Linked DNA regions of Homo sapiens: region 1 is linked to region 2. Evidence: fine-mapped expression QTL. A gene starts in region 2. The other region holds a variant in brackets. All regions are shown on one strand. Distances are between the middles of the regions.

Evidence for each region. PIP is the estimated chance that this variant, and not a neighbour inherited with it, causes the effect.
Region 1: its variant is fine-mapped to the expression of GGA3 in whole blood (TOPMed, PIP above 0.99).

The regions. Positions count from the first base shown.
Region 1 is chr17:75,233,766-75,243,552 of GRCh38, reverse strand. It overlaps NUP85 (nucleoporin 85), which reads right to left. Exons shown (of 19, transcript NM_024844.5): 17 at 8,765-8,916; 18 at 8,352-8,453; 19 at 7,795-7,975. The coding sequence ends at 7,874. GGA3 (golgi associated, gamma adaptin ear containing, ARF binding protein 3) reads left to right here. Exons shown (of 17, transcript NM_138619.4): 5 at 1-106; 6 at 387-490; 7 at 642-722; 8 at 1,080-1,217; 9 at 1,857-1,938; 10 at 2,037-2,153; 11 at 2,496-2,741; 12 at 3,141-3,211; 13 at 3,445-3,764; 14 at 3,982-4,178; 15 at 4,470-4,639; 16 at 4,791-4,901; 17 at 5,164-6,954. The coding sequence ends at 5,274. Among named protein-coding and RNA genes, the nearest start is that of GGA3, 23 kb to the left of the region's middle. RefSeq lists an enhancer at 508-557 and silencers at 2,611-2,905, 8,739-8,902. The variant G/T (reference allele first, on the strand shown) is at 3,029.
Region 2 is chr17:75,256,782-75,265,743 of GRCh38, reverse strand. It overlaps GGA3 (golgi associated, gamma adaptin ear containing, ARF binding protein 3), which reads left to right and starts at 4,138. Exons shown (of 17, transcript NM_138619.4): 1 at 4,138-4,196. The coding sequence starts at 4,157. MRPS7 (mitochondrial ribosomal protein S7) reads right to left here and starts at 3,865. Exons shown (of 5, transcript NM_015971.4): 1 at 3,761-3,865; 2 at 3,056-3,247; 3 at 2,877-2,940; 4 at 2,237-2,404; 5 at 1-42. The coding sequence starts at 3,843. RefSeq lists enhancers at 3,079-3,956, 3,753-4,162, 4,633-4,732.

The sequences.
Region 1 (9,787 bases), 23 kb after region 2:
TCTGAGAAAGTGAAGACCAAGGTTATTGAGCTGCTGTACAGCTGGACCATGGCCCTGCCAGAAGAAGCAAAGATCAAAGACGCCTACCACATGCTGAAGAGACAGGGTACGTGTCTGCCTGCCCGCAGCCTCCAGGCAGCCCTCGAAGGCTGGCCCAGGCAAGGAGAGAAGGGAAGGTTTGGGATCCCCAGAGTCCCTCCTGAAGAGAACAGCATTTGTCCCCAGGCAAGGCTGAGTCGGAGTTGGATGGGATAAGGTGTAGCAGCCTGCCCTCCACCCTGCTACCCTTTGCAGGTCTTGATCACAGGGACGTGGCCCTTGGTGTATGAGGAGGGGTGACAAGGCAACCACAGCCTGAGTGCACGTGCTGCCATGTCCCCTTTCAGGCATAGTGCAGTCTGACCCACCAATTCCTGTGGATAGGACGCTGATCCCCTCTCCACCACCTCGTCCCAAAAACCCTGTTTTTGATGATGAGGAGAAGTCCAAGGTAAAGGACACCCTGGGCCTGGGATTTTCTCATACGAGAGTGGGTGGCAGCAGGGGAATGTGGTTTGCACTGTGCTGCGGGGAGCCTCTGGGGTTTCCCTGGGGTACGGGTGCTGCCTCTTCCCTTCACCTCTGATTTCCTCCTCTCTCAGCTTTTAGCCAAGCTGCTGAAAAGCAAAAACCCAGATGACCTGCAGGAGGCCAACAAGCTCATCAAGTCCATGGTGAAGGAAGTGAGTGGGCCCCGGTCCTTCAGGCACGGGGTGGAGGAGCCCATGGCCACACAGCAGAAGCCGCTTTGCCCCGGACACGGGCCTGTTTTGTTCTCCCCTGCTGCCAGCTGCCCTACCTGTGCCCCGGTGGCTGAGAGTGGGAGGAGGAGCACAATAGCTTCCGCGGGAGCACGGAAGAGAGGAGTGGGTTGGGAGCAGTGTTGTGAAAGCAGAAGTATAGACTGGGCCCCAGGCACCCCACACTGAAAGGAGCTTCCGAGCGTCTGTACTTGTGTTGTGGGGTAAGGTGTGACCTGGTGGAAGTGGAAAGACAGTCAAGTGACGCTCTCTTTCTCTTGAACTTCTTCACTGGGGCAGGACGAGGCACGGATCCAGAAGGTGACCAAGCGTCTGCACACGTTAGAGGAAGTTAACAACAACGTGAGACTGCTCAGTGAGATGCTGCTTCATTACAGCCAGGAGGACTCTTCGGACGGGGACAGAGAGCTGATGAAGGTGGGACCGCCGACGGCAAAGGCTGCCTCCCGGGGCTGCGCTGCCCTTCAGGAGCTCAGCCAGCATTTGCTGAGCACGTGCCTTGTCAGAGACACGGGCTGTGCACTTGGCAGTGTATTCATGACCTTACTCATCTGCACAGCAGCCACGTCAGTAGAGGGTGGCGTCCCCATTTGCCTCCTGGGATCAGCTGACTTGTCCAGGGTGTAAGGGCCAGATGGAAACCTGAGTCTGACTCCAGAGACCACACTCTCGGTGCTCACCCCTGCTCTCTCCCTTTCCTTACTACCTTGGGGACATCAAGACAGAGAGGCTTCCTTGTAACCCTGATGCCCATGTGGTGCAGGCCATGGTTGGGTGGATATTTTGAGTTCTGAGGAACATGCCAGCCTGGAAGGCAGGAGGGGACTGACTTCCCCTGACCCATCCTGGTGACTGCTACCTAGACAAACATCCTGGGTGATGTGGTGTGGTGGTGGTGGCTGGTGGCAAGAAGACGTGCGCTGTGATCCCAGCTTTGCTGGTAATTGACCGTGGCAATTGGCATATCCCGGTCATTTTCTGGGCATGAACCCTGAATGAATCAGATGATCTCTAAGGGCCTTTGTGGTTTGATTTTTATGTCCGAGTCTCTTTCAGGAGCTGTTTGATCAGTGTGAGAACAAGAGGCGGACTTTATTTAAACTCGCCAGTGAGACTGAGGACAATGATAACAGTTTGGGTGAGTGAAAGAGCGACGGTCAGGGATAAGCCAGGCATTTGGATATGTGGGTGGGAACTGTCACAACAGGAGTGAGAAGTCTCTCTTTCCTGCTCCAGGGGACATCCTGCAAGCCAGTGACAACCTCTCCCGGGTCATCAACTCTTACAAAACAATTATTGAAGGGCAGGTCATCAATGGCGAGGTGGCTACCTTAACCCTGCCTGACTCGGAAGGTGAGATGCTCTGGTCCCCAACTCTAGGCTCCTCCAGACCAGCCTCAGGCCCCTATCATGAAGCTGCGGGTGTAGGCTGGCCAGCGTGGTGGTGTTGCACAAGGCCCAAGGGAGTTCTTTGCCATTCCAAGCAATCCTCCGGCTTCCCGGAGGCCTGGAGATGTGGGTAGGAATTTCCCCACCTGCTTTCTCGGGCTTGCTTTGCAGCATCCCCTGGCAGAGATGCCGTTGGATTAGGCCAGAGGCTGTAGCAGTGACCTCTGTGCCTAGGGTGCTGCCTCCTGCCACACAGCCACTAGAAGACCCCTAATTATTCCTGTTCTGCTCTGTTGACCCATCCAGGAAACAGTCAGTGCAGTAACCAAGGCACGCTCATCGACCTTGCGGAGCTGGACACGACCAACAGTTTGTCCTCCGTGTTGGCCCCAGCACCTACTCCACCCTCCTCAGGCATCCCAATCCTCCCTCCACCACCCCAGGCCTCAGGACCTCCACGGAGCCGCTCCTCTAGCCAGGCCGAGGCCACCCTGGGGCCCAGCAGCACAAGCAACGCCCTCTCCTGGCTGGACGAGGAGCTACTCTGCTTGGGTGCGGCCCACAGGGGGCGTCAGGGGCATCCCCTGACAGGGCTCTGGGAGGAAGGGTGTGTGGAATTAGGAGCCCTGAGCGGGGCCCCAGTGTGACTGTTGGGGTGGGCAAAGAACCCTGAGTTGGAGGTACTCAGTGAAGTTCAGCGACCCTGAGGGCCCCAGGGCCATCCTCCCGGTGGACTCTGCCTCCTGCCCTGCACCCCGCCCCACAGGCCCCCCGCTTCTGCATCATGGACTGGAGCGCTCCATTCCCCTCTGGAGGCTGCCTGCAGAACAGCTTCTCCC[G/T]GCGCCTTCACCCATTGATGTCACTTGTCACCTGACCCCTCCTCAGGCAAGGCGGGGCTAGGGCTGCCTAGCTCAGAGCCTCTTCTCATCCTGTTTTCTTCTCTATTGTCAGGCCTCGCCGACCCAGCCCCTAATGTTCCTCCCAAAGAGTCAGCTGGGAACAGCCAGTGGCACCTGCTCCAGGTAGGGGCACAGGATCGGTGACAGCACTACTGTGCCAAGGACCTCCACTTTCCAGCGTCATGTCTCCTGGGCTGCAGTTAGCTGTCCTTCCCTCCAGAGCGTGCCAGCTGCAGCGGGGAACAATGAGTGCCTCCGGGGCTGTCTTCCGTGCAGTCCTTGGAGGGCTGCGCCCCGTTCCAGCGGCAGGCCCTCCCCACCCGCCCTCGGCTCACCACCCTTTCTGTTGTTCATAGAGGGAACAGTCCGACCTGGACTTCTTCAGCCCCAGGCCGGGGACCGCTGCCTGTGGCGCCTCCGATGCTCCTCTGCTCCAGCCCTCAGCCCCCTCCTCAAGCAGCTCCCAAGCTCCACTGCCGCCTCCCTTCCCAGCTCCTGTGGTCCCAGCCAGTGTTCCTGCCCCCAGTGCGGGCTCCTCCTTGTTTTCTACTGGAGTGGCCCCAGCCTTGGCCCCAAAAGTTGAGCCCGCAGTCCCTGGGCACCATGGCTTGGCGTTGGGCAACAGCGCGCTGCACCACCTGGATGCCCTCGATCAGCTTCTAGAAGAGGCCAAAGTGTAATGAGTGGGAGGAGATGTGGGGTTGCTGAGGGTTGGGCCTGAATGTGTCAGAACCAGAGCTAACTTTGAAGGGGTGGGGGTGCCTTGTAGTCCCATCAGTCAGGCTGGAAGGCAAGGGGTGGGCCTGGGTAAGAGCATGGTCAGGGGCCTTGGGTGAGAGTCCTGCAGCTCTGGCTGGCTCTCTGACGTGCTTTCCATCCTTCCCACCTCCCAGGACCTCGGGCTTGGTGAAACCCACTACCTCCCCTCTCATCCCCACCACCACCCCAGCCAGGCCCCTCCTGCCCTTCTCCACGGGGCCCGGCAGCCCGCTCTTCCAGCCACTGAGTTTCCAGTCCCAGGGCAGCCCCCCGAAGGGGCCTGAGCTCTCCCTGGCCAGCATCCACGTGCCCCTGGAATCGATCAAGCCTAGTAGGTGTTGGAGGATTGAGGTGGGTGGGGCGGTGGGGCCTATAGCCACGGAGCTGTAGGACATGCGACAGGGATGGATCCAGGCACTCTTTGCAGGGGGTCCCTTAAAGCCAGGCAGGCCTCCCTGCCTGCATTCTCAGTCTTAAGCTCCTCACTGAGCGCCTCTCCCAGATTCCGTTAGGAAGCACTGGACTCATCATGACCACGGAGTAGCCCTTTTCTCCTCACCGCCGGGGCTCTGTTGGGTGTCTCTGGTGCTGCTCCTCCCACACTCACGTCACGTTCTTACAGGCAGTGCCCTTCCTGTGACAGCCTACGATAAAAACGGCTTCCGCATCCTCTTCCACTTTGCCAAGGAGTGTCCCCCAGGACGACCTGACGTGCTGGTGGTGGTGGTGTCCATGCTGAACACGGCTCCCTTACCTGTCAAGAGCATCGTGCTGCAGGCTGCAGTGCCCAAGGTACCAGTGTCTCCCTGGGGCCAAAACGGCCTTATCTTGACCCTGTTGTGTAGAGGCCTTTGCAGCCAGCAGGTGGCAGTGTGTGTGTGCACTGCAGGTTCCATCTGGGGGCACCTACCAGTTCTCTTCAAAGGAGTTTCTCTCTCTTTAGTCAATGAAAGTGAAGTTGCAGCCACCTTCTGGGACAGAACTCTCTCCATTTAGCCCCATCCAGCCACCTGCAGCCATCACCCAGGTCATGTTGCTGGCCAATCCACTGAAGGTGAGCAGCAAAGAACCCAGGGGTCCCAGCCTGAGGCCCCAGCTGCCCCAGATTAGGACGTCAGGCCCACCACCTCCCAGCTGGAAGTGTTTTGACTGTAGGATTGACACATCCCTTTGCTGCCTTAGGTTAAGTGTCTGAGCATGGTTGGGGGTTGCGGGGAAAAGGGACCATTCCTCTAGCACAGAGAGGGTAGCAGAATAGAGGGCGTCCTGCCAAGGGGCCGCCTGGGCTGGATCTCACTTGCTGCCCTCTGTCACAGGAGAAGGTGCGGCTTCGGTATAAGCTGACCTTCGCCCTGGGGGAGCAGCTGAGCACAGAGGTGGGCGAGGTGGACCAGTTCCCTCCTGTGGAACAGTGGGGGAACCTATGACCCCAGAGGACGCTGTGATCTCCACCTTGAAGCCAGGCAGGCTGCCCTGAGACGAGGAGGGCTCTGGTCCCGTCACTCTCCATGCCCTGACAACAGTGCTTGTAGCTTTGATGTGGAACAGGGGCCCTGGGCATTTCTGCTGAGAACCAAACTGCTGCTGTGATAACCTCTCCTTTGGCCCCTAAAAGGACCTGTTTTTATCTACCTGTGTGACTTGAAGTGGCCATATGCTGTCAGGGGTGCGGAGTGGCCCCTGACTTCACTGCTGTCCCGGGAACATGGACCCCCAGGCTTGGCGTAGGTGTTTGCTTCCTTCTACTGGCATTCACTGAAGCCACTGGGGTGGGGGGTGGGGGGTGGGAGTCTCTAAAGAGAGACTGTCATGGGTCATTCCCCACAAGAGCCACATCCTCACACCTGACAGATGCACGGCCCAAGGGGCTGCAGCCCTGTTGCAATTCCATGCTTCCCCCGCCAACCAGCTCCTGCTGCCATCCCCAGGGAGGTGGCCCAGGAAGGTGCCTGGCCCAGAATAAGGAACTGGCATACTGCAAAGTCCCCAGCCCTGCCTCTGGTGGACAGCATCGTCCTGGAATGGCCACGGAGTGATGAGTTGTGTGCTTGTCCCTGGCAGTGGCAGGCTGTGTCCTATGGACATCTTGGCAGGACATGGAATTTGGCCTCATGACAGGCCCAACTAGGGATAGGAAGGAAAATGAAGAGAGCCAGTATTTCCCCTTCTCCAGAAGCAGGTACTCAGCTTTCTGGGAAAAGCGTGCCTCCAGCCGTGGGGACAGGCCATCCTACTGACTACCTCTTGCTTGGCATGAAATAAACTGCTATCCTCCCCTTGGAATCTACCGCCACTCTACATCCTACTGCTTTGGCCTCCCTCTCCTCTCACCAGATGGCATGTGGTGTGGCACCTGTGGCTGGACACAGGAGGCCTCAGGATCACAAATGTTACACTAGACATATGTCCTAATGTGCTGCCCAGAAACCTCAACTGTTCCCCAGCTACTGAGGGGCACTGTCAGCGAGATGTTGGGTCTGGAGGTGATGAGATCGGGCCACACTTGAGCTGAGTCACCAGACCCTATTGCTTCAACAGTGCTTGGCCCCCGCCAGCTTGTCCCAGCCACTCTAGCTGCTGGATGTGATCCTGGGACATGTACTCCAAGCCTCCGTCACAAAAAAAAAATCACCAGCTGCCATAGACACGGGGGAAGCTTGCGGAGCCCAGGTGAACAAGCTCAGCAATCGGACATCTCTGGGGAAAGGAAGGTGGCACAGACCATGTTCCCTGGTTCCTCCCTGCCCCTTGCCAGGCTTCCTTATTCCTTACTATGGGAAGAGGTCATATCCCTTCCCTGCCCCTCGCTGTCTTTAGCAAGCAGGTTTCACTGCTTCATTAGAAGAGGACAAGTCAAAAGTGAATCATTTTTCACTACTTAAGGAATAAATCCAAGAGCTTTCCAGAGACTGGCTGCTGCAGCCCTGGGAATGTCTGTGGAATTACTATGTGGAAATGGAACTTTGTGTTATGCTCTAGACATTACAGTTATTTGAGTGTTACTCGTTACTGTTGAGGTCAGTGCTTCGTGGCAAATGGCTGTACTGGATATCCCAGCTCTGCTGCCCTTGTTTTGCTGCATGTTAAATAAAACCATTTTCACTGTACTTGGAATCTTCCTAGTATAGACGCCATTCACCCTGATGGAGGAAAAGGTACCACCTATGAATTCTAGATATACATGAGGACAGCCTATGATAGAACTGCCCAAGGTTTTTGTTAAAAGTGCGGGTTCCTGTACGCTTATATTTTAAGGGAACTAAATAACCAAAATGTTAAGTGTTCCAGAAGAGGTGAGGCAAGATTTCAGAAGCACAAGTATACCACCAAGCGTTCTTGTTCAGACTTCCAAGACACTGCAGTCACCACAACTTTGGGGTTTTTTTTTTTTTTTTTTTTAAACAGAGATGGAGTCTCCCTATGTTGCCCAGGTTGGTCTCAAACTCCTGGGGTTGAGGGATCCTCCCAAAGTGCTGGGATTACAGGACGTGAGCCACTGCACCCGACCTGGGGGGTGATTTCTTATCTAAGGAGGCACAGGAAGACAGTTGCGTATCAGAACATAAAACAAGGCCGGGTGTGGTGGTTCACGCCTGTAATCCCAGCACTGTGAGAGGCCAAGGCGGGCAGATCACAAGGTCAGGAGTTTGAGATCAGTCTGGCCAACACAGTGAAACCCCATCTCTACTAAAAATACAAAAAAATTAGCTGGGTATGGTGTGCACTTATAATCCCAGCTACTTGGGAGGCTGAGGCAGGAGAATCACGTGAACCCTGGAGGCGGAGGTTGCAGTGAGCTGAGATCGTGCCATTGCACTCCAGGCCAGGCAACAGTGCAAGACTCCGTCTCAAAAAAAAAAGAACATAAAACAAGCATTTTTTAATCTCTTACCACCTCAGGTTCAGACTAGACAGATAAAAAATTCCCTGGGTGGACTCTAAGAACCTACATTTGCAAAACAACATTTATTCTTTTAAAAAAATCTATATACATTGCCATACAAAGATACCACATTGAAGCAGTTCTCAGGAACCTTCCAGTGAGCCTTCTCTTATAATTGCCCGAGCAAGATTTCGTGCCAGAGAAAGTCTCAGCATTTCCACCTTGGTGGTCTCTATGTCATCATCCTGCAAAGCAGAGAGCGCCAGCATGAGCTAAGAGCAGGAAGGAGCCCTTTCACACTCCCGAAGGGTCTAGCTAATCCAAAGGTAGAGGGCACTTAACATTCATAGTAGCTTCCAGCAAATTATCGATGTAAAAGAAAGCAATACCAAAGGGCCATACTGGAAATGATGAACAGCAAAGAACAAAATGTAGAGATGAGAACACTAGAATCCCTGATTTTCTCCTAAAAGAAGGTGGTGTGTGAATTACACAGGTTAAGGGGAACAGAGGCACATGTGTCCATAGGAGCCAGTGTTTCTGGAGGGAAGGGGAAGCCTGAGATAGAGGGAGCCTTTTCCCACCTCCATGTGGAACCATCAACCCAAAAGTGAAAATGACCTGGAGCTGCTCGGTATCAGATTCTCCATGCACAGGTCTTCTTGACGTCAAGTCCTCCAGACACCGCATCAACTCATAAGTCTGTTCTGCTGAGAAAATCACCTAGGGAAGAGAGCCTGCCTTGCTTGGCTGCCCCCAGCCCTGGCCTGCATTGGTTGGGGCAGGGGCCCATGTTCGGACGTTCTTCCTTTCATACCCTTCGCAATAGTGTGCTTTGTATACGAATACCTCATTTCAAATCAAGCAGTGTTTGTTTCCTGTGTGAGTCTGGAATCCCAGAGAGGGCGCTAAGGGGAATACACGCGCACAGGCAGAACGACAAAGGAGGAAACACGCACATCGGCAACAGCTATACAACTAAGCTCTAGCAGGGACTGACAAGCAAAGAAAACCACTGCTGCTGCAACCTTCACCTGTTTCTGTTCCAAAAGGGGCAAGGCGTCTGTCAGCAGAGTCATCCAGAAAGACCGAGGGGCAATCCGAGACGTCATCAAGGACAGAAGGAGAGAAGCTGCGTCGGCAAAACGCTTCTCCCCGTACATACGGTGGAACTCGCGATACTTTCCTATGGCGAAACAAGAGCACTGAGTAACCTGCATATTCCCCCAAATTGCCCAAGTGACACCTACAAAAGTCACCCTGGCCCTAAACAGGAGAAGAAAAACCTCAGACCAGCCACTCCACAAAGCAGGAGATTTTTTTCTGTCTCCAAACTCATAGGTCCCAATGAGATGCAGACCAAGAGCATTCAAAACAGACTTGGAAGAACTCCGAAGAGCCAAATCTGGGGAAACATCAGAGTCAAAATACATAACAAGAGTCATGGATTAAAAGAGATTGACTAGGCCAGGCGTGGTGGCTCATGCCTATGCCTGTAACCCCAGCACTTTGGGAGGCCGAGTCAGGTGGATCACCTGAGGTCAGGAGTTTGAGACCAACCTGGCCAACATGGTGAAACCCCATTTCTACTAAAAATACAAAAATTAGCCGGGTATGGTGGCATGCACCTGTAGTCCCAGCTACTCAGGAGGCTGAGGAGGAAGAATGGCTTGAACCCGGGAGGTGGAGGTTGCAGTGAGCCAAGATTGTACCACTGCACTCCAGCGTGGGCGACAGAGTGAGACTCCGTCTCAAAAAAAAAAAAAAAAAGAAGAAACATGGAGGCACTGGCCAGGCACAGTAGCTCACACCTGTAATCCCAGCACTTTGGGAGGCCGAGGCGGGCGGATCACTTGAGGTCAGGAGTTCCAGACCAGCCTGACCAACATGGTGAAACCCCATCTCTACTAAAAATACAAAAATTAGGCGGGGCGCAGTGGCTCACGCCTGTAATCCCAGCACTTTGGGAGGCCGAGGCAGGCGGATCACAAGGTCAGGAGATCAAGACCATCCTGGCTAACACGGTGAAACCCCATCTCTACTAAAAATACAAAAAA
Region 2 (8,962 bases):
GGCTAGGAAGCGGCGACGCCGGTCGGGTAGGGGTACAGGGACCTGGGTGAGACAGGACATAGGCAAGTTGGTCCAAGAGTCTGCCAGGGTTTGGGGCCTCCTGCCTCCCTGAATTCTAAGGAGTAGCCACATGTTCCCTCTGGACCAGCCCTGGTCAGGCCTGGGGAGAAGGGCCTGTCTTTTCTTCGAGCTTCCCTCACCTTCAGGTGACCCCAGTGTAGCAGACATAAGAGGCGTTCATTCAGCAAATACTAATTAAGCACTGGCCTCTCCCGGCACTGTGGTTCACACCTGTAATCCCAGCACTTTGGGAGGCTGAGGCAGGAGGATCGCTTGAGCCCAGGAGTTCAAGACCAGCCTCGTCAATATAACAAGACCCTGTCTCCATATATTAAAAAAAAAAGAAGGCCAGGCACGATGGTTCACGCCTGTAATTCCAGCACTTTGGGAGGCTGAGGCAGGTGGATTACCTGAGGTCAGGATTTCGACACCAGCCTGGCCAATGTGGTGAAACCTCGTCTCTACTAAAATGCAAAAATTAGCTGGGCGTGGTGGCAGGCGCCTGTAATCCCAGCTACTTGGGAGGCTGAGGTAGAAATGCTTGAACCCAGGAGACGGAGGTTGCAGTGAGCCAAGAATGCACCACTGCACTCCAGCCTGGGCAACAGAGCGAGACTTCGTCTCAAAAAAAAAGAAAAAGAAAAAGAAGAAAAGCACTGGCCATTTTCCCTCCTAAATGGTAGTCCTACCAAGTTGTTATAAGAACCAAATAGGAAAAGCCCCATTAGCTGGGGTGACTAATCCACCTCAGACCATAGGTACCTAAAAACAAGACCCCTTCAGTCTTCAGACACAGCAAAACCCTGTCTCTACTAAAAATACAAAAAAATTAGCTGGGCATGGTGGCGGCCACCTGTAATCCCAGCTACTTGGGGTGGGCAGGGACTGAGACAGGAGAATCTCTTGAACCCGGGAGGCGGAGGCTGCAGTGAGCCGAGAGCTGAGATTACAGCACTGCACTCCAGTCTGGGCAACAAAAGCGAAACTCCATCTCAAAAAAAAAAAAAAAAGTTAAAAACAAAAAGACCCTATACAAACAGTTAAAGAAAACCAAAAACAAGACCCCGTGTCCAAAAATCATTTGTCAGGCCCTCACTATGCGTCAGTACCATGCCAGACACGAGAGTGCAGACAATAATGAAGTCCCTACCCCATGGAGTTGATATTGAAAAAGGAGAACACAAGAAAACTCAGGACAATAAAATATAATTAAATGCTATGAAAGAGATACCTAGTACTGTTCAGCAAACACTGATGAAGCATCAGTTATCGGTCAAGCACTATGCCAAACACTGGCATACAAAGACAGGATATGAATAGTCCCTCGCCATGAGAATTTTACAGGTTAGGACACACAGGATGCTTGACAGAAGAAGGCGAAGGGAGGTGGGCTCCCAGATGTCACTTAGATACTTCTTCACTCTCTTCCACCTTCTGCCTATAATTTTTACGCTACAGGACTCAGATGAGTGGACCGTAACAGTCTCAATTCTTTTTTTTTTTTTTTTTTTGAGATGGCGTCTTGCTCTGTTGCCAGGCTGGAGTGCGGTGGTGTGCTCTCGGCTCACTGCAACCTCTGCATCCTGGGTTCAAGCGATTCTCCTGCTTCAGCCTCCCAAGTAGCTGGGACTACTGGTATGTGCCACCACACCTGGCTAATTTTGTATTGTTAGTAGAAACAGGGTTTCTCCTTGTTGATCTCGAACTCCCCACCTCAGGTAATCCATCCACCTCGGCCTCCCAAAGTGCTGGGATTACAGGTGTGAGCCACCGTGCCCAGCCGTTTTTTTTTTTTTTTTTTCTGAGACAAGGTTTCTCTCTCTTGCCCAGGCTGGAATGCAGGGGCGTAATCATAACTCACTGCAGCCTTGACCTCCTGGACTCAAGTGATCCTCCTACCTCAGCCTCCTGAGTAGTTGGGAGCACAGATGCACACCACCACACCTGGCTAATTTTTTTGTTTTTTTTGTAGAGACGGGATCTCCCTATGTTGCCCTGCTGTCTCTTAACTCCTGAGCTCAAGCTATCCTGCATTAGGCTCCCAAAGTGCTGAGATTACAGGTGCAATCCCACTGCACCAGCTAGAAAGCTATCAATCTTGACCCAACTCCCAAGCACCACCTATCTTGTTTCACATGTGGAGGGCCCTGCTTTCTTGCCCTGGCCATTCATTCACCTGGTAGAAACGGCCTCCCTTGAGGATGGGTACCAGCCCAATCATAGGCTCACAGTTTTTCAGTGCTTGATGGAAGATGGTGTAGGGGTTGCGTTCGATGGTTGCCTGTTCCTCTGCAGAAGCGGCATGGTACTTCTCAAACTGCTTCCTTTTCACAGCTTCCAGAGTCTGCAAAAGAATATGGTGGAAGAGGCTGCCCCAGGCTCCCTAAAGGGTTTACCCAGCCAAGCTAGTACCTTGCCCTTTACTCCCATCCTCTGGTTCTGCGCTGGCAATGCAGCTCCTCTCACAGCACATCCAAAACAAAGTTTTTAAGTGCCTCCCCCTTTGCTAGACTAGGACAGAAAGAGTGGATTGAGATTTGTGGCATGGAGGGGGTGGGGGGTGAGGTGGGGAATGGCAGTTGTTTTATTTTTTATTTGTTCCTTTTTTTTTAATTGTGTGTTTACTTCCGAAACACCAAGGAATGGCAGTTGCTGACTCTTACAGGGCTTCATTAAAGCCCGTACACATGCAGGGAAGTTAATCTGAATAATAGATACATGAATCCATTTGCTCTTAAGCTACACTGAAAGTACCAAGTACAAGGCTACGGGGTAGGGGGGCAAGAAAGATGACTGAGGAGGGAAGTGCTGTTTACCTGAATCATGAGGGATCTGGCCAGTACTTTGTTTCCTCCTATCATCATCATGTTGGTGAATTTACTTCAAAGAGAAAAGCAACACGTTTAGCTCTCCAAGGCTGTATCACAGAATCCTCACCAGAAACCCTCCCTGGGATAGTCCCAGTCCATGTAACAAGTGTTTGTTTCCATCTAACCTGATGACTGGGTCTTCAAACACAGAACTTGTTTTCCCTGCTGGAGCAGCTTTGATGAGCTGAGTCTTCTTGAGCTCCCGAACATATTTCTCCTCCTCAGTTAGCTCCTCCACTGGCTTGCGATAATATTCCTTGTCAATCAAGGGATCCTTGAATTCAGGACTATAGCGGCTCCATCTCACCTGAGTTAGCCTGGGAGGGGGGGAAAGGAGGAGGCAGGCAAAAGCTGACTCCACAAGCGAGTAGGTTTGACTTAACAATAGGCATGACTGCCAACGCGCCGACGAGGGGGAGCGGCGCGGAGACCGCGAGCTAAACCTGAGCCACAACAATTCAGGCCCTTGTCCCAAGTAGGAGGACATTCCCCAAGCAGGCGGGTAAAGTCTCCTCCTGGTCAAGTGCTAACGGTAAGGATGGGCTTGGCGCCTACACACCCATCCCAATTCACAGGCGATCCCAGATCTGAGCTCTTTAGCTGAACCGCACTTTCAGCTCCGCGTTAGAACCCTAGATCAGCCAGACTCCTTAGGCGAGAGGTAGTCACTAAACCTTCGGATTGGCGCAGGGTCACGCAGCTAACTTAGAAGCTTGAATCCAGATACTCCGGCCCCCAGGGCAATGCTCTCTCTAGGGGCCCACGCGGCCTGCCTGTGGCCCCCTTCCTTCCTCGCAGCGCCCCCCCGCCGCTGCTCGCCACCCTCTCACCCTGGAAGCTGCAAGACAGCCCGCCGCACGCCCAACGCCAGGCCCGACCATCCTCGGGCAACCTTCACTGCGGGGGCAGCCATCTTGGCTGGCCACGAGGACCCCACAAGGACTGCCCTCGGCGCGCCTGAGCGAGTGACGGGAAACGGGTGAAAAAGACTCCTCAGGGTCCTAAATCTGCGTTTCTCTCCACTGATCTGGACGTTAGAGTTTTTCACTCCGGGGTCCAAAGGGGAGCGCCAAAAGGAAACCCTTGCCCTCCCTGTATCCGTCGCAGTCTGGCGCGGCCCTCGGTGACGGCACTCACTCCTCTCAGGACCCCATGCAGGCCCCGCCCCGTCTCAGCTCGTGCAGACTCTCGCGAGTTTTGAAGCCGCGGGGCCGGGCGGCTGCAATATGGCGGAGGCGGAAGGGGAAAGCCTGGAGTCCTGGCTCAGTGAGTAGCCGCGGCCGTTTCTGCCTGCCCTCGAGCCGCTGGGCTGCCCCTGTCTTCACCCCCACGTCCCCTCCCCGGGCTCCACGGCGTCGCCTCTTGGCAGCCCACGCCCGGTCTCGCCCTCGCCGCGAGCAGCCTGCGATCACGCCCCTTCCCTATCAGGGCGCCGGGCCCCAGTCCGGCCCCCGCTTCCCTCGCTGCGGCGCGTCCTCTTGCTCTGGCGCGCGGCGGCGTGAACTCGGGCTCCTGTCGGGCACCGCAGGCTCGGGGAAAGGCGACAGCCAAGATCTTCGGGCTGACATGCTTCGGCGCTTTGGGGAGATTGTGGTGGGGTCGCCGCCCGGCGGTGACACCAGGAACCCAGCGCCCCAATCCCTGACTAAGGGAGAAGCTTCGGATTGGGGCTGAGTCTCCGGTAGTGGTGGGTGCTGCCGACTGCGTTCAGTCGCCTGGCAGCTTCAGAATTGTGACCATGTGTTGGAGAAGTGACGGCTTCGCTCAGGCAGAATGCTTGAAGTGAGAATAATATTCCAAAGAGAGCGATGATAGAGAACAGAGAGCTCTACCTTTTTCCTGCAGTGACCACAGAAGCATGGTGAAATCGGTGTCGGGAATTCCCCCCCCACACACATACATATACCCCCTTGAATATCCTAACGAGTCAGTGTTGATAGCCTATTCTGAGTAAGGCTGAGGAGCACAGTCTGAAGCTGTAGTTATAGAAGCGTATTGCTGTCATTGCACTGTGAATTACAGTGCTACGAAGGAAATGTGTGTTAACCTGGTTAGCAGGTAGTACTCTGCCTGAGGGTTAATAAGTGAACTTTCCTGTAGGCTAGACCTGGAAGCCTCCTTTAAGTGGAGAGAGAAATTGGACTGGTAATGGGATAGGTGAGATACCTAGTATTGCCTTGTTCTGAGGTCTCTTATTTAGTACTGCTTCCGGGATCTTGGAGGTGATAGCTATTTCCTCAAATTGTCTGATTTTTCCTAGTAAGAAACCCCCTTCAGGAGGTTGAGCTTCAGTTTAAAGGGGAGCATATCCCAAAAGAGAGAAAAAGTAAGATCACGTTTGCAAAATCTGCAGTTGCAGGCAGGTCATAAGGCTTCTTTATATATGGAAGTGTTCTCCAAGGAGCTCAAAGTACTTTACAGATATTCATTAAATTAGTTTACCAAGTATTCTAGCAAAGCAGGCACTACTGCCATAATTTCACAAAAAGAGGACATCCTGACTCCAGTCAAACCACTTGCCCAGAAATGCCCAACTTGCTATAACCAGAGTGGAATTAGTTTGCTTTGAAGGTATTAATATGGGTATTGAATAATTTAAATGACCTAAGCTGAGTTTAATAGGCTACATTTAGAGTTACATTTTGTTTTTGTTACTTGTTTTTGAGACAGAGTCTCGCGCGCTGTTGTCTAGGCTGGAGTGCAGGGGTGCGATCATAGCTCACTGCAGCCTTGAACCCCTGTGCTCAAATAAGTCTTCTACCTCAGCCTCCTGAGTAGCTGGGACTATAGGCACACGCCACCATGCTTGGCTAATTCTTTTGATTTTTAGTAGAGATGAGGTCTTGCTGTGTTGCCCAGGATGGTCTCAAACTCGAGTTCAAGTGATCCTCCCACCTTTCCCTTACAAAGCGCTGGGATTACACACGTGAGCTACCGCACCCAGCCTAGAGTCACATTATGAAATGAGAGGGACACACTTGGTGGGGGGGAGTCACATGGTATCTGTAGAGACATAAGCTTCACAGTTGTTACGACTTAATGTGAACTGTACCAGTTGAACAAACCAGCAGTTGGGGTTCAGCATCGTCTCAGTCAGCGTCCTTGTCACCCCACGTTTGCCTGAATTGTTGCAGAAGCCTCTGCTTGGCCCAGAGACCCAGGTCTCTCCCGTCCTCACCTCTCCTCAGTCCATTCTGCTCCCAGAAGCGCACTTGTGTTGAATCAAATCATTCCACTGTTGCCTGTAATCTGGCCTTGGTTGTTCCAGGCCTTTTTCTCTGTGGCTTCTACGTTTTCCTGCTCTACTCAGTCTGATGTTCTTGGTTTACCAATACACGTTGCTCTCCTTACCTGGAAGCCCTGCTCCCGTTTCCTCAACTAAATGCTTGAAAACCCATCTCAGATTCTCTTTTCTCACAAACCATCTCTTGATGACTTCAGTCTTCTTTCAAGTCCCACCATGATCAATCAATCAATGTTTAATGAGTACCTGCTACGTGGGGTGTTATAGGAGTTAGGAAGTTTAAGAAGATTTTGCCTTTAGTTGGATGGAGGTGATGCTGGAGTGGATGAAGAACTCTCCTGTAATCCCAGCACGTTGGGAGGCCGAGGCGGGTGGATCACGAGGTCAGGAGATCGAGACCATCCTGGCTAACACAGTGAAACCCCGTCTCTACTAAAAAATACAAAAAAATAGCCAGGCGTAGTGGCGGGCGCCTGTAGTCCCAGCTACACGGGAGGCTGAGGCAGGAGAATGGTGTGAACCCGAGAGGTGGAGCTTGCAGTGAGCTGGGATTGTGCCACTGCACTCCAGCCTCGGTGACAGAGCGAGACTCCGTCTCCAAAAAAAAAAAAAAAAAAGATACAAGGCAGTGCTAAAACGCCGGCATTCTCTTTAGGGAACTGGGGATGGGGGAAGAGATGATTCATTGAGGATACTCCATTTGAGCTAGCCATTAAATAATGGGAAAAGTTGGAAAAAAAAAAACACTAGATGGTGATGTGGAGAGAGCAAACCTGTTTGGGGCACACAGTAACAGAGGTGTTTGGGAATGAGGGAAGATAAGGCTGGGAAGTTAAGACCAGATTCTACCAAGTCTCCAATTTCCAGCCCAAGAAGTTTATTTTATTTATTTATTTATTTGAGACAGAGTCTTGCACTGTCACCCAGGCTGGAATGCAGTGGCACAATCTCGGCTCACTGCAACTTCCGTTGCTTAGGTGCAAGCAATTCTCCATCCTCAGCCTCCCAAGTAGCTGGGACTACTGGTATGTGCCACTACACCTGGCTCATTTTTGTATTTTTAGTAGAGATGGGGTTTCACCATGTTGGCCAGGCTGTTGTCAAACTCTTGACCTCAAGTGAGCCACCTGCCTCAGCTCCCTCCAAAGTGTTGGGATTACAGGCTTGAGCTACCACGCCCAGCCCAGCCGAAGAAGTTTAAATTTCTGCAGTTATCAGGCCCTCATTCCTTCTGTACTAGGTGAAATCGGTGTTTTGGTGTCTTAAGAGGCTTGATTTGATATAGGTTTCATGCGCGTCCGTGTGAAGAGACTACCAAACAGGCTTTGTGTGAGCAACATGGCTGTTTATTTCACCTGGATGCAGGCAGGCTGAGTCCGAAAAGAGAGTCAGCAAAGGGTGGTGGATTATCATTAGTTCTTACAGGTTTTGGGATAGGCGGTGAAGTTAAGAGCAATGTTTTGCGGGCAGGGATGGATCTCACAAAGTACATTCTCAAGGGTGGGGAGAATTACGAAGAACCTTCTTAAGGGTGGGGGAGATTACAAAGTACATTGATCAGTTAGGGTGGGGCAGAAACAAATCACAATGGTGGAATGTCATCAGTTAAGGCTATTTTTACTTCTTTTGTGGATCTTCAGTTACGTCAGGCCATCTGGATGTGTACGTGCAAGTCATAGGGGATGCGATGGCTTGGCTTGGGCTCAGGCCTGACATTCCTGCCTTCTTATATTAATAAGAAAAATAAAACAAAATAGTGTTGAAGTGTTGGGGCAGCGAAAATTTTTGTGGGGTGGTATGGAGAGAGAATGGGCGATGTTTCTCAGGGCTGCTTCAAGTGGGATTAGGGGCGGCGTGGGAACCTAGAGTGGGAGAGATTAAGCCGAAGGGAGATCTTGTGGGGATGTTAGAAGAAACATTTGTCGTATAGAATGATTGGTGATGGCCTGGATATGGTTTTGTATGAATTGAAAAACTAAGTGGAATAAGAGAAGGAGAAAAACAGGTATAAAAGGTCTAAGAATTGGGAGGACCTAGGACATCTGATTAGAGAGTGCCTAAGGAGATTCAGCATAGTCCTGCCAGCAAAGATTATTTATTTACTTCAAGAGTTAAGAGTGGCAGTTTGGGGATAGCACGAGGAGATATCACCTGTGATGGCTTGGAGAAACAGTGTAAACCAGCAGTGTAAACAAGAGCAGGGCATGTATGAGTAGTTGAGAACGTTGAATAGGAGTATGACTAGACAGAAGATAGTAGGGATGATGACAGGTTTTTTTTGGGGGGGGGGGCACAGTCTAAGTTGGTCTGGTGTCTGGAATGAGACTGGGGCCTAATAAAAAGGAGCATCTATACAGGAGCTTAAATGGGCTGTACCTTGTAGCATTCTGAGGACAGGTCTGACTTCTGAGAAGGGAAAGTGGTAAAAGTATTGTCCAGTCCTTTTTAAGTTGGTGGCTGAGCTTGGTGAAGTGTTTTTAAAAGACCTTTAGTCCGTTCTGCTTTTCTTGAAGACGGAGGACCGTAAGGGATATAAAGGTTTCACTGAATACTAAGAGCCTGAGAAACTGCTTGGCTGATTTGACTAATAAGGGCTGGTCTGTTAGACTGTATAGAGGTGGGAAGGCTAAACTGAGGAATTGTGTCTGACCGAAGGGAAGAAATGACTGCGGTGGCCTTCTCAGACCCTGTAGGAAAGGCCTCTACTTACCTAGTGAAAGTGTCTACTTAGACTAAGAGGTATTTTAGTTATCTGACTCGGGGCATGTTGAGTAAAGCTAATTTGCCA